Linked DNA regions of Homo sapiens: all the other regions are linked to region 1. The links come from fine-mapping of genetic effects on gene expression. A gene starts in region 1. Each other region holds a variant in brackets. All regions are shown on one strand. Distances are between the middles of the regions.

Region 1 (4,000 bases):
CTATGTCTTCTTACATAAAATTCTGCTCTATGTTTAACCCTTAAGGTCTGTATATGAAATATTAATTACTTTCATAAACCTTTAATTTGGTACTCTGACAAGATACCTAAAATACAAGTCAAAGGTTTTATAAACTTCAGCTTTAAAATAATGGAAGGAAAAAATCATTCCTGACTTAAATATCAAAGATGTATCCTAAATTGATACAGAAATAAAGATAATTCAAAAAAGCAAAGCCTCAAACCAAATAAAAAAGTGCTGTAATTTGTTACTCTAAAAAAAAAAAGGGGGGGGTGAAAGGGAAAAAATCACAACTTTTATAAAATGATTAATGTGATAAATGCTCTTCCCCAAGTAAGTTGTGATTCCTAACAACTCAAGTTCCTGAGTAACTGACATCTGTTACAGTGTCCTCCTGACACACATGAAATTGGACCCAGTAACTGAGAAGGTTAACTCCTGTACCAATAGGTACTGAAATGAACCTCTCTCAAAACAGGTTTGTTGTTGTTTTTTAAAAAAGGAATTTTACTTTCAGGGGTCCACAGGTTAAGTAGTTCTCATTCGGGAACCTATATGAGAGTACCCCCGAAACAAAAAGTACACCGCACACACCCACAGTACCAGGAAAAGGTTACAGATACAGATGGCCTCTGTGCGCACATATGCTCTGGCTTCCTCAATTTCCCTTTGCCAACTGCTGGCCAGAAAGGTGCGAGTATTCACTTTGGAGAAAAGACTCCTCCGACAGAAACCTGCATACTTGCATTACTCGTACAAAGAGCTAAAAAGTTACAAAATACAGGCCTCCCTAACACCTTCCCCCCTCCGTGAATAAAGCTAGACTCCCTCATTGATAGACTCCCAACACTACTGGAGAACATCAGCAAAACTCCAGGAGGAAGCGCCGGCATCCTCCCACTTTCTCCCCCTCAATTCCCTCTCCCGGGGCCACTCACACTTTTAGAAAAGAGCCGCGGCGCCGAGAAAGTGGGTTGGTTCCCTTCCTCCTTCGGACTGAAGCGGCAGCTGCGGAAGGCTCCGGCGCGGTACTGAGGAAGAAGCGGTGCTCGTGTCGCTAAACCAGGCGGCAACCCGGGTCTCTTCCGCGCTGCCAGGGGAGGGGAGGCGGCGGCCCCGCTTACCTCCTCTTTTCCTCTTCCTGGGTCTTTTCAGGCTGCGGCTTCTGCCCGTCCAGGGCCACTTCTCCCGGGACAGTCAGGTTTGGGAGACTCCGGATTTTGTTTTTGTAAAGTTTCCTCTGGGTGGAGGCTGCGGCCGGCCCCCCGGGTCCCCCCCGGCCCCGCCGCCCTCGGGACTGGGGCGGGGGAGGGGGGCTCTAGGAACTCCTCCCGGAGTCCAGCCAAGGAGCCGGGGGGCCGGCGACTGGCCAAGGGAGAAGACCCCCGGAGGGGGCTGAGGGGAGGGGGAAGGTGAGGAAAGGACGGCGGCGTCGGTCCTGTTCTCTCCGCCGCCCCAGCCGCCGCTTCACATCGGGGTCCCCGCCCCCCCGGCCGGGGGGTGGTTGCCGAGCTTGGTTGGGGCCCCGGTTCATACACTCCGGGGCAAGATGCTACGGCCCCGGGCGGGTGGCCGAGTCGGCGGCAAGGCGAGGGACCCGGCCGGCTCCGCTCGGCGCCGCCCCCGCTCCCGGCTCCCGCATGTGTCGCTGCGGCTGGGACCCCCCTCCCTACACCTTGGGGGTCTCGCCCCACGCCCCACGGGACGAGGCAGAAGCTCTGGCGCCTCCTCAGCGTTCTCTCACCGCGGAGCAGCTACCCACTCCCGGCCCGTGGTAGCCGCCTCCCTGCCCCCCAAGCCGCCGGCTCCGGCTCAGGCTCGGGCTCCGGCTCTGGCTCCGGCTCCGGCGTGTGCAGCCGCCGCTGCCGGCCGGGAAGGTGAGGGGGGGAAAGGAGTGCGGCCGCGGCTCCCGCTGGCCCAGGTGAGAGCGAAGGTCTCGGCGGCGGCCAGTGCAGGGGGACTGGATCTCTCGGATGCTCCTTCGCTCTCAGTCTCAGCGGCGGCGGCGGCGGCAGCGGCAGCGGCAGCGCCCGGAGCTCAGCTCGCTGTCTCCCTCGCTCTGTGCGGGGCTCTCGCCTCACTCCAGAGAGAGGGGCGGGAGGAGAGCGGCGCCTGCCGATGACGCAAGTCACCTAGCAACCGCTCTCTTCCCCCTCCCTCTTCTTTCCGCTCTGAGGCTTCCTCCGCTGGCCTTTTTCCCCCTTCCAGCCACCCCGCCCTGGGCGCCTCTGGCGCGCTCTGATGACGCTCCAAGGGAAGAGGAAGTGGGGATCGGCGAGCGGGTGGGTGCGCCTCGGGCCGCGGGACTCGCAGCCGCCACCGCCGCTGCCGCCTCTACGGCCGCGTCAGAACTGAAGAGAGGAAGGGGAGGAGCCGAGTCGAGCCTAAGCTGCCGCCCGATCTTACCCCTGACCCGAGGGCGGCCTGGAGAGCTTGGTCTGTAGCGGTTTCCTTCGGGGCAGGTGGGGACTGCTCCTTTGGGAGGAAGGAGGAGGCCCAGGCCGCGTCTTCAGGCAGCTGCGCGCACCACCCGAAGGTGAGGCATTTGGCCCCAAACAGACCCTCGAAAAGCCGGACTGATCGAGGAGTTACCCTACAGCCTGATCTGCACCTGCTCCAGGGAGAGAGCGCCCCACCCTTCCCGTGGCGTGGGGTGAGACCCAGCGTTGGATAACGTGTGGTCGGGCCGAGCAAATGTTTGATGAATGAATGAATGAATGAATGCCTCTCTCACGTGGCACTCGTGAAGCTCAGAGGATATGGTGGAAGTGCAAGCGCTTTGTAAACTGCAGTGCATTGTAAAAATGAGTTGTAATACATTCCTCCCCTCCCCCTAGCCATGAAAGGAAACAGGGGTGCGGCTTGAGTACAGAGTCACAACCTGAGTCTTTAGTGGAAAAGGAGACGAAATGCCGAGCAAGGGAAGGGACCCATCCTCGCGCAGATTGTTAGGGCGGCGGGAAGGGAGGATTGGAAGGGAGCCATCCTCTGGGAGATTGCTGAAGGATTTTTGACTGTCAGGGGAAGAATTTAATAGTCCCTCACTTTTACGAATGGTTCTTTCTTACGGTTTGGAGCTTTCGAGAGCTTCTGGTCTTGGTTCATCAGTGTACGTTGTCATCAAGAAATGTTGGCCTGTTTCAGGTCTGACTCAAAGGTTATTTTCTTTCTAAAATAAGTGTTATTACTATTATGCAGCTTTTCCTACAGATGTTATCCTGGAAAGGAAAGTTAAGTAGAAACTCATGAAGTTTAAAGTGTAGTTCTCTAGGAAAACAAATTTAAGATAAAAGGACCAGAATCCTCAGAAATCTGTCTTCAGTGAATAGTATGAGAAAAAGATTAAAGCAGCAGCAATGATGAAAGCAGATTCCACAATTCTGTCCCTGGACCCTAGTACACTCTACCTCCTTGGGAAGCAGTAGTAATGGATTTTACAAGTCTTTCCACCTGGAGGAGGGGGTAAGGTAGGAGCAAGTGTATTATAGACAAATGTGGGAAGCTCTGGGTTTCTCCCACTACTGCCACTACCATCTGCAAACAGTAAACTAAGGAAACTTTTAACTGGGTAAATCCAAGGGCTCGTGTTCATTAAAATGCTGCGGGAAAGGTGGTGAGAGGGGCAAAGGAGGATGTGGCAAAACCAAGGAGAGACTCACAGACTAGCACCTGACCCTACTGCCCTTGACCTGAAGTTCCAAGAGCCAGGTTAAATATCCTGCTTAAATTACCCTGGATTTTTCTGTCTTTACGTGACCAATCCCCTGCTACAGCCTTCCAAATAAGACTCACAGGTAATCAGACCAACAAGTGATGGTCTCACATGGCTACAAAATAAATATTTTTTGTTTTTCCCCCTCTTCCTATCTTACAACAGGGGAATGGTGGAAATTAAAGGAGTAAAACACACAGATTTAGGGGATTTTGTGAAGCTAAACACCTCAGAGAGTTTAACCTTTGTAGGCTTTGAAGGAAAAGA
Region 2 (4,356 bases), 68 kb before region 1:
GAGGAAAGAATCGGATATAAAAGCTATTTTGCCTTAATTCAGCCATAAATAGGTCACCAAAATCCTCTTAATTACCACATTTGATATAAACAATTGGAGGTAGCTCTCAATTATGTCTTTTCCTTACTGTCATCACAATTGAAAATTTAACAACATCATTAATAAGTTTTTCATTTCCTTTTCCATTGCTAAATTTCCATGAATACTATAACATAAACCATAAGAATATCAATGTATAGAACAATATTACCCATCTGGCCAGGCGCGGTGGCTCATGCCTGCAATCCCAGCACTTTGGGAGGCCAAAGTGGGTGGATACCTGAGGTCAGGAGTTAGAGACCAGCCTGTCCAACATGGTGAGACCCCATCTCTACTAAAAATACAAAAATTAGCCGGGCATGATGGCATGCGCCTATAATCCCAGCTACTCAGGAGGCTGACACAGGAGAATCGCTTGAACCCAGGAGGCAGAGGTTGCAGTGAGCCAAGATCATGCCACTGCACTCCAGCCTGGGCGACAGAGTGAGACTCTTTCTCAAAAAAAAAAAAAAAAAAGAGAACAATATTACCCATCTAATAGCCACTCAAGTGACTGTTAGCCAATGAACACCATGATTTTAAATCAACTAACAAGAATATCAGTGATCCTAGCACTATAAAATCTCATCAAAATAGGCCGTTATTTGAAGTTGACAAAGAATACTGTCAAATAACATGAAAGGTAAGAATAGTCAATTCCCCTAATAAAAACACATCTAGCGCATTTATATTACAACCTCAACCTTACACAGAAAGCTAATGCTTTGAAGACAAGTGACATTCCACTGTTACACACCATTTCTCCAGAAACTAAACTAGACAACATTATAGGTCAAAATACATGAAATACACCTTCAACTGATCACATAACGTCACATAACGATAAAAAATAAGGAACTAAATTGGTACCTTAAAAATTAAAGACACTGGCTGGGCGCAGTGGCTCAAGCCTGTAATCCCAGCACTTTGGGAGGCAGAGGCAGGTGGTCACCTGAGGTCAGGAGTTTGAGACCAGCCTGACCAACATGGTGAAACCCCGTCTCTTCTAAAAATACAAAAATTAGTCAGGTTTGGTGGCACATGCCTGTAATCGCAGCTACTCGGGAGGCTCAGGCATGAGAATCACTTGAACCCGGGAGGCAGAGGTTGCAGTGAGCCAAGATTGTGCCACTGCCCTCCAGCCTGGGCAACAGAGCGAGACTCCATTTCAAAAAAAAAAAAAAATTAAAGACATTTACTTAATAGAGGAAAAACTTACATATTCCATACATAAGTTTACAAAAACACCAAAATATCATTGCTTAAAAATAATCTGGGTTGGGCGTGGTGGCTCACACCTGTAATCCCAGCACTTTGGGAGGCCGAGGTGGGCGGATCACGAGGTCAGGAGATCGAGACCATCCTGGCTAACATGGTGACATGCCATCTCTACTAAAAATACAAAAAATTAGCCAGGCGCGGTGGCGGGCACCTGTAGTCCCAGCTACTCGGGAGGCTGAGGCAGGAGAATGGCGTGAACCCAGGAGGCAGAGCTGGCAGTGAGCTGAGATCGCGCCACTGCACTCTGGCCTGAGCGAAAGAGCGAGATTCCGTCTCAAAATAATAATAATAATAATCTGTACAAGATTAAAATCAGTGAGATTATCAAAATCTATTCCTTCTTCACAAGAAAGATAAGAACCTGATAATCCTTAGTCTAAAAAGCAATGGTTTCTTAAACTATGAAATAAAATATGCAGTAATTGTCATAATAAACTATTGATATGGTTTGGCTGTGTCCAAACCCAAATCTCATCTTGAATTGCAGTTCTCACAATCCCCAAGTGTTGTGGTGGGACCCAGTGCAAGGTAATCGAATCATGGGGATGATGACCTCCATGCTGTTCTCATAATAGTGACTGAGTTCCCACAAGATCTGATGGTTTTATAAGGGGCTTTTCCCCCGATTCACTCTGCACTTCTCCTTGCTGTCACCATGTGTTTGGTTCCTCTTCTGCCACAACTGTAAGATTCCTGAGGCCTCTCCAGCCCTGAGGAACTGTGAGTCAATTAAGCCTCTTTCCTTTATAAACTACCCAGTCTTGGGTATATGTCTTTATCAGCAGCGTGAGAACGGACTAATAACATCTATTAAGGATGGCCCCTCCCTTCTTCAATCCAAAAAAAACTAAACATAAATTCACAAGACTAATATCAATAAACATATCACACACAGCTAATATTTTCACAGTAACACATGGGATCAAAACGTAAGGTTTTGCTTAAAACAATTAGCTGAGGAACTGAAGCACAAATACAAGGATAATTGCCTCCTTTGGGCTTTGACTGTCAAACACAAGAAATGCCAATGCTTTTTCGTAGTCCTATGAC[G/A]ATTAAAACTTTGTCATAGACCCAGGCTATCAGTGAGTATTTATTTAAAAACAAATCTGCAATATAACACCAAAAGAACAAGCAACAAAAAACAGATCAGCTGAACTTCAAAATTAAAACTTTTCTGCTTCAAAGGACACCATCATAAAAGTAAAGAGATAATCCATAGGAGAAAATATTTGCAAATCATGTATGTGATAAGGGACTAGTTTCCAGAATATATAAAGAATGTTTACAATATTCAACATTAAAAAGATAATCTTTTTTTTTTTAATGGGCAAAGGAGTTGAACAGATATTTCTCCAAAGAAGATATATGGTCAATAAGCATGTGAAATGATGCTTATCATTAGTCATTATCCAAATCAAAATCACAATGGGATACAACTTCATACCTACTAGAATGGCTGAAATACAAAAGACTGACAATAAGTGTTTATGAGGTCGTGGAGAAATTACAATCCTCATACATTGTTGGTGGTATTGTAAAATGGTACAGCCATTTTGAGAGTTCCTCAAAGAGTTACACACAGGTACTATATTATCGAGCAATCCCACCCCATCCATATATACTCAAAAACGTATCTACACAAAACTTATATAAGAATGTTCACAGAAAAGCGCTCCTAATAGCCAAAAAAAGAAGTGGATACAACTCATTAACTGATGAATACACAAATGATATACAAAGAAATATTCAGCCACAAAAATGAATGAAACACTGATACATGCTACAACATGAGTGAAGCTTTAAATATCATGCTAAATTAAAGAAGCCAGACACAAAAGGACAAATATTTTATGATTCTGTTTTTATAAAATGCCCAGAATAGGCAAACCTATACAAACAGAAAGTGTATTAGTGGTTGCCTAGGGCTGGGTGATAGAGGGCGTCCAGAAGAAGGATGATGAAAGTAACCTAAGATTACAAAGTACTGGTAGTTGCATAACTTGGTGAATATATTAAAATATCACTGAATTGTACACTTAGAGATGAAATCTCCTGGTATATAAATTTCATCTCAATAAAACTGTCACTAAAATTAATAAATTTGCTAAGATGAAATATACATGATAAGCATATAACACAAAGACGACTGCTTCCCTCTAACTCAAATATACGCATCAATAGGGAAAAAAATGACAATAAGTTACTCTTTTGTACTTAATACAACTCCAGAAATCAGTTACCACCTTCTAAAGTAGTAAAAATCTGTTTAAGAGATCTCTGTGGCATCATTTGCTCCTAAAAGTATTTATATTTATTACAAATTTACAGTAAACAGAACAGTATAACTGTTGAACATTTAGGCACCTACTGTAGTTACTATAAAATTTAAGAAAAATAATTTGGTCAAATATTTGCTGTTTCAAACACATTAAAAAGTATAATAAAAGAAGCCAATGCTTATCACTAAATATTTCCTCCTTAATAATCTGCTATTGACTATATTAAAAACAACCAAAAGCCTATACTATGACACCTCATTATGCAATGTCTCAGCACTTCTTTCCCATTCTGAAGCATATTTAATAACTTTAAAATCTATTATGATTAACCAAATCATTTTATATCTATATAATCACCATAGTACACAGGTATAAAATACTATGTAGTTGAAGTAAAATACATTCTGAGATTGACTCACCTACCTTTACTCAAAAATAAAAAAGTAAAAGCTTTATCTATGAAATCATAAGTTTATGAAATTCTTAACTACAGACACCTACAAAATTTTTCATATTTTAAGCTTGGAACAAAGAATAATCTAAACAGGAAATGCATAGACCCTGACCACAGTATTTGGTTCATGTTGGCATGTTGCAGCAAACAGGACCTAAATACAAGGAGGAGTCAAGCAATGGATGGCTAAAGAACAAATCTGTATTAGTGTTTTCACAAAAAAGAAATACTACAAAATCTCAAGTAGGGGAAATCCTGTTTTAT
Region 3 (4,178 bases), 180 kb before region 1:
AACACAAGCAATGGAACCAGAAAAACCTGGATTTAAGCGCAAGTTTTGCCATTACCAGAGTGTAATGTTAGGTGGTTACTTGACCTTTACGAGTTTGTTTTCTCTTTTTATAAAACAGTAATGATATACACCTACCTTACCACCTAAACTACAGAGTCACTGTGAGGAAACAGAAAATGCCTAGCACATAACAGATACCCTAGAAATGGTAGCTGTATTTAACAGGTGGGAAAAGTAGGTACAGAATTAAGTGTCTTGCCCATGCTTAAATAGCTAGCTATATTTAGAACCTTGGTCTCTGGTCCCAAGATCAATAATTCTTACTGATTTCCATTAGATATGTGGTAGCTCAAGTTAAGCTAAAACACGAGACATTGTTAAAGAAGAAAAAAGTGTTATATTTTGCAAAAAGTATGTATGTAAATTACAAGTAAATCTTGATTATTCAGTTTATTGAATCGTTATTTTAGGTCCATATTAACTATGCTTCTACTACATCTGGGAAATCTGAGGCAAAGGCCTGGTGATGGGGGAAAGGTGACAGAAACTGAGAAAATTTTAGGTTAAAAAAACAATCAATTGAGAAATAAGTCACCTCCTATGTCCCAATATCTGCGAAATGCTACCAAGGGCAAACAAAAACATTGCAATTACCTTCCTCCCACAAGATACTTAAAATCCAGGTGACAAGATAAGAAATGAGGCTGGGTGTGGTGGCTCACACCCATAATCCCAGAGCTTTGGGAGGCCGAGGCAGGAGGATCATTTGAGGCTACGAGTTCAAGACCAGCCTGGGCAATATAGCAAGACCCCATTTCTATAAATAATGAAAAAAAATTACCTGGGCATGGTAGTGTGCACCTGTAGCCCTAGCTACTTGAGAGGCTGGGGCAGGAGGATCGTTTGAGGTTGCAGTTAGCTATGATCACAGCACTCTACTCCAGCCTGGGTGATAAGGCAAGACTCTGTCTCAAAAACAAACAAACAAAAACTACCAAAAACAAAACAAAACAAAACAAAACAACAACAAAAACCACGAAGACAGGTGAGGCAAGAGAATCACTTGAACCCGGAAGGCAGAGGTTGCAGTGAGCTGAGATCGTGCCGTTGCACTCCAGCCTGGGCAAAAAGAGCAAAACTCAGTCTCAAAAAACAAAAAAAACCCACAAAGACAAGAAACAAATAGAAAGCAATACTGGACTATATATCAATTGCCAAATTGGGTGGAGTGAGTCAGAAAATGGAGAAGTTATTTTAATAGTCTGGGAGTTCATAAATGACATGGTCTTGCTTCTGTGTTTAAAAAACAGAAGTTTGATAAGTGTTGAGAGGGAAGAAGGAAATTACCACCTGTGGACCTGAGATGTAAATGGAAATACGACTATTATTAACTTGCAGGATTAACAGCATCTATTAGACTTCTAATCACTGGTCTTACAAGGTTCATTAGGGGATAACCCATGTGATAACAATTATTTCTCCTAACTGAAACATTTAATACTAGAGTTAAAATGTTATTTAACATATTGTTAAATTTCTTCAAAATACCTCCTGTCATGACTCATCATTCCATCTTAGGGCATTATGTGTCTTTCTGTACTAGGAGAACTTTACTGTGTGGGTGTGAAGACTGTTGACTTTTTATTTTAGTTACAAACACTGACAAACAAGGGGACTTTCTGTTTGAACAGGCATTCACACTAGAAATCATACATACAAGCAAGTTGTACTCCTGAATACACAGCGCAGGGAAATGGTGTATAAAACATTCATTGAAATTGTATATTCCCAGAAAAAGTTAATGAAAAAACAATCCGAAAAGTTACTCGGGGCAACAGGTGAGTACACAATTCACCGATTCTTGCCAACATGTGACTGAAAGAACCTGTCCTATTCAAAAAGGTATAGCTCACTAAGAAAATTTTCATCTTGTTCTACCCCAGCCCTTTCTCCCCACACCTCTACTGTCTGGCCCCCAGACTCAAAGCCTCTTTTCTAAAGAACAGACTTCACTATAGAGCATTTTGAAGTCTCAGAAACCGTTCATCAGGTACAGAGCTAGGTGACTATGGAAGGGTGACTGTAAAACTAGAAGGTATGTGAGATTCGATAACACAATATAAGGTACGGTCCTTTTGAAAAAACAAGCATATATTTTATGTGTGTGCGCACTGTGTATGCATAGAGAAAAGCCTAGAAAAATA[T/C]ATTAAAATATATTAAATATATATATATATATAAAATATAGTAAAATGCCAGCCAACATTTGGCTGGCAGATACAGAAAGTCCAGATTCATACTTACTGCACTTTTTAAAATATAGGCATCTCTTCTCATCAAGCATCTTACTAATTTTCCAGAAGAATTCAAAATGACAAGGCATAACTTGAACCAATCTTTTAAAACTCTAGTTATGAATCAAAGTCTGTGAATTCAAACTGATTTCACTAATTCAAAAATATTTATTGAGTACCTATTTTGTTTTGGTGCTAGGCCAGTGAGAAACAAAAATAACACTGGATTCTTGCTCTAGAAAGTGTGCCTCATGGTGATCTTTAATCAATTCTTTGTTTTTATGTAGCTTGCTTGTTCTTTAAGTATTCAAGTGTTTGACATAGCTGTCAAGTGAGTAGGGAAGAACATAGTAATCAGGCCCCCACTACATTTTAAAAAGAGGATTCTATTCATTTTTAAAACATTAATTTAAATTTTAAAGTACTTCCTATATACATATATATACTTTAACAAATTACATTATTTGCTTTAAAAAAAAATCAAGAATTCTATGACTAGCAAATACTTACATGATTCCCTACCTGTTTAGGAGATTCCAAAAGACTCTGAAGGTCAATAAATATTTTCAAGACAACTTAACTTGAAAAGGTATCTGAATGTATATTTGTCTTTTATGTGCAGTGAACTGTAAGACTGATAGTTAGAAGCACTTTGCTATCTTCTCAACATTCTCATAGAAATATTTTATTTACAGATTCACTTTCTTAAAATTTATTTTAGCACATGATTTAAAAAATATTTACCTATAAACACTTGAGACCTCCAAATGTTTGAAAACTAACTTTTGACAGGCATGGTGGCTCACACCTGTAATCCCAGCATTTTGGGAGACCAAGGCTGGTGGATCACTTGAGGTGGAGACCAGCCTGGCCAAGAGTGAAACCCCGACTCTACTAAAAATACAAAAATTAGCCGGGTATGGTGGTGTGCACCTGTAATCCCAGCTACTTGGGAGGCTAAGGCAGGAGAATTGCTTGAACTCGGGAGGTGGAGGGTGCAGTGAGCCGAGATTGCAACACTGCACTCCAGCCTGGGAGACAGAGCTAGACTCCATCTCAAAAAAAAAAAAAAAAAAAAGAACAGAACAGAACAGAAAAAAGAAAAGAAAAAAGAAAGCTTATCACATTTAATACATGATTCTAAAAACTCCTTTATGTGGAATGAATATCATAAGTTTCCCACCAGTTGCATGAAGGCATGGTATGTAATGATGGAATGATGACTATTAAACAAATATGAATTATAACTAAAATTAAGAACTGCTCCTGATATGAACAAGTGCATATAGCTGTGGTCTGTTACGAACTGCTACATGGTAAATTGAGACCACTTTTTAAAGCTAAATCTTAGATTTCTTAAAATCTAAGTTTATGAGTCAATGTATGTTCATAATTATACAATATGAAAAAATCCTATGAGGAATAGTCTAAATCTACCCAAAAGAATATCAATTCAAAGCTAGCAAAAGGATGCTGAACTTTAGTGTAATCTTAAAATTCCAGTATTTTTTAGTTCATGAGATGATAAAGAAGACACACACATATTCCTTTCTTCATTTTAAACCTTTCCTTTAAAGTCATTCCAACAACAGACAACTTAGCATATTAAAAAAGAACTTAGGGCCGGGCGCAGTGGCTCATGCCTGTAATCCCAGCACTTTGGGAGGCTGAGGCAGGTGGATCATAAGGTCACGAGTTCAAGATCAAGTTCACCAGGCCATCACCTGGCCAAGATGGTGAAACCCCGTCTCCACTGAAAATATAAAACAAATTAGCCAGGCATGGTGGTGGGCACCTGTAATCTCAGCTACTTGGGAGGCTGAGGCAGAGAATTGCTCAAACCCGGGAGGCAGAGGATGCAGTGAGCCAAGATTGCACCACTGTACT

The links. PIP is the estimated chance that this variant, and not a neighbour inherited with it, causes the effect. A credible set is the group of variants that fine-mapping cannot tell apart.
Region 2: its variant is the best candidate, but not a certain one, in a credible set for the expression of FBXW7 in whole blood (INTERVAL, PIP 0.72).
Region 3: its variant is the best candidate, but not a certain one, in a credible set for the expression of FBXW7 in whole blood (INTERVAL, PIP 0.67).

What each region holds. Positions count from the first base shown.
Region 1 is chr4:152,533,982-152,537,981 of GRCh38, forward strand. It overlaps FBXW7 (F-box and WD repeat domain containing 7), which reads right to left and starts at 2,111. Exons shown (of 14, transcript NM_001349798.2): 1 at 1,146-2,111; 2 at 960-1,052. It overlaps MIR4453HG (MIR4453 host gene), which reads left to right and starts at 2,283. Exons shown (of 1, transcript NR_033797.2): 1 at 2,283-4,000. MIR4453 (microRNA 4453) reads left to right here and starts at 2,447; the gene lies at 2,447-2,535. RefSeq lists enhancers at 457-556, 1,806-2,341, 2,047-2,406 and a silencer at 1,147-1,936.
Region 2 is chr4:152,465,307-152,469,662 of GRCh38, forward strand. All of the region lies in intron 2 of FBXW7 (F-box and WD repeat domain containing 7), which reads right to left. Among named protein-coding and RNA genes, the nearest start is that of MIR3140, 22 kb to the right of the region's middle. The variant G/A (reference allele first, on the strand shown) is at 2,410.
Region 3 is chr4:152,358,617-152,362,794 of GRCh38, forward strand. All of the region lies in intron 4 of FBXW7 (F-box and WD repeat domain containing 7), which reads right to left. Among named protein-coding and RNA genes, the nearest start is that of FBXW7-AS1, 23 kb to the left of the region's middle. The variant T/C (reference allele first, on the strand shown) is at 2,205.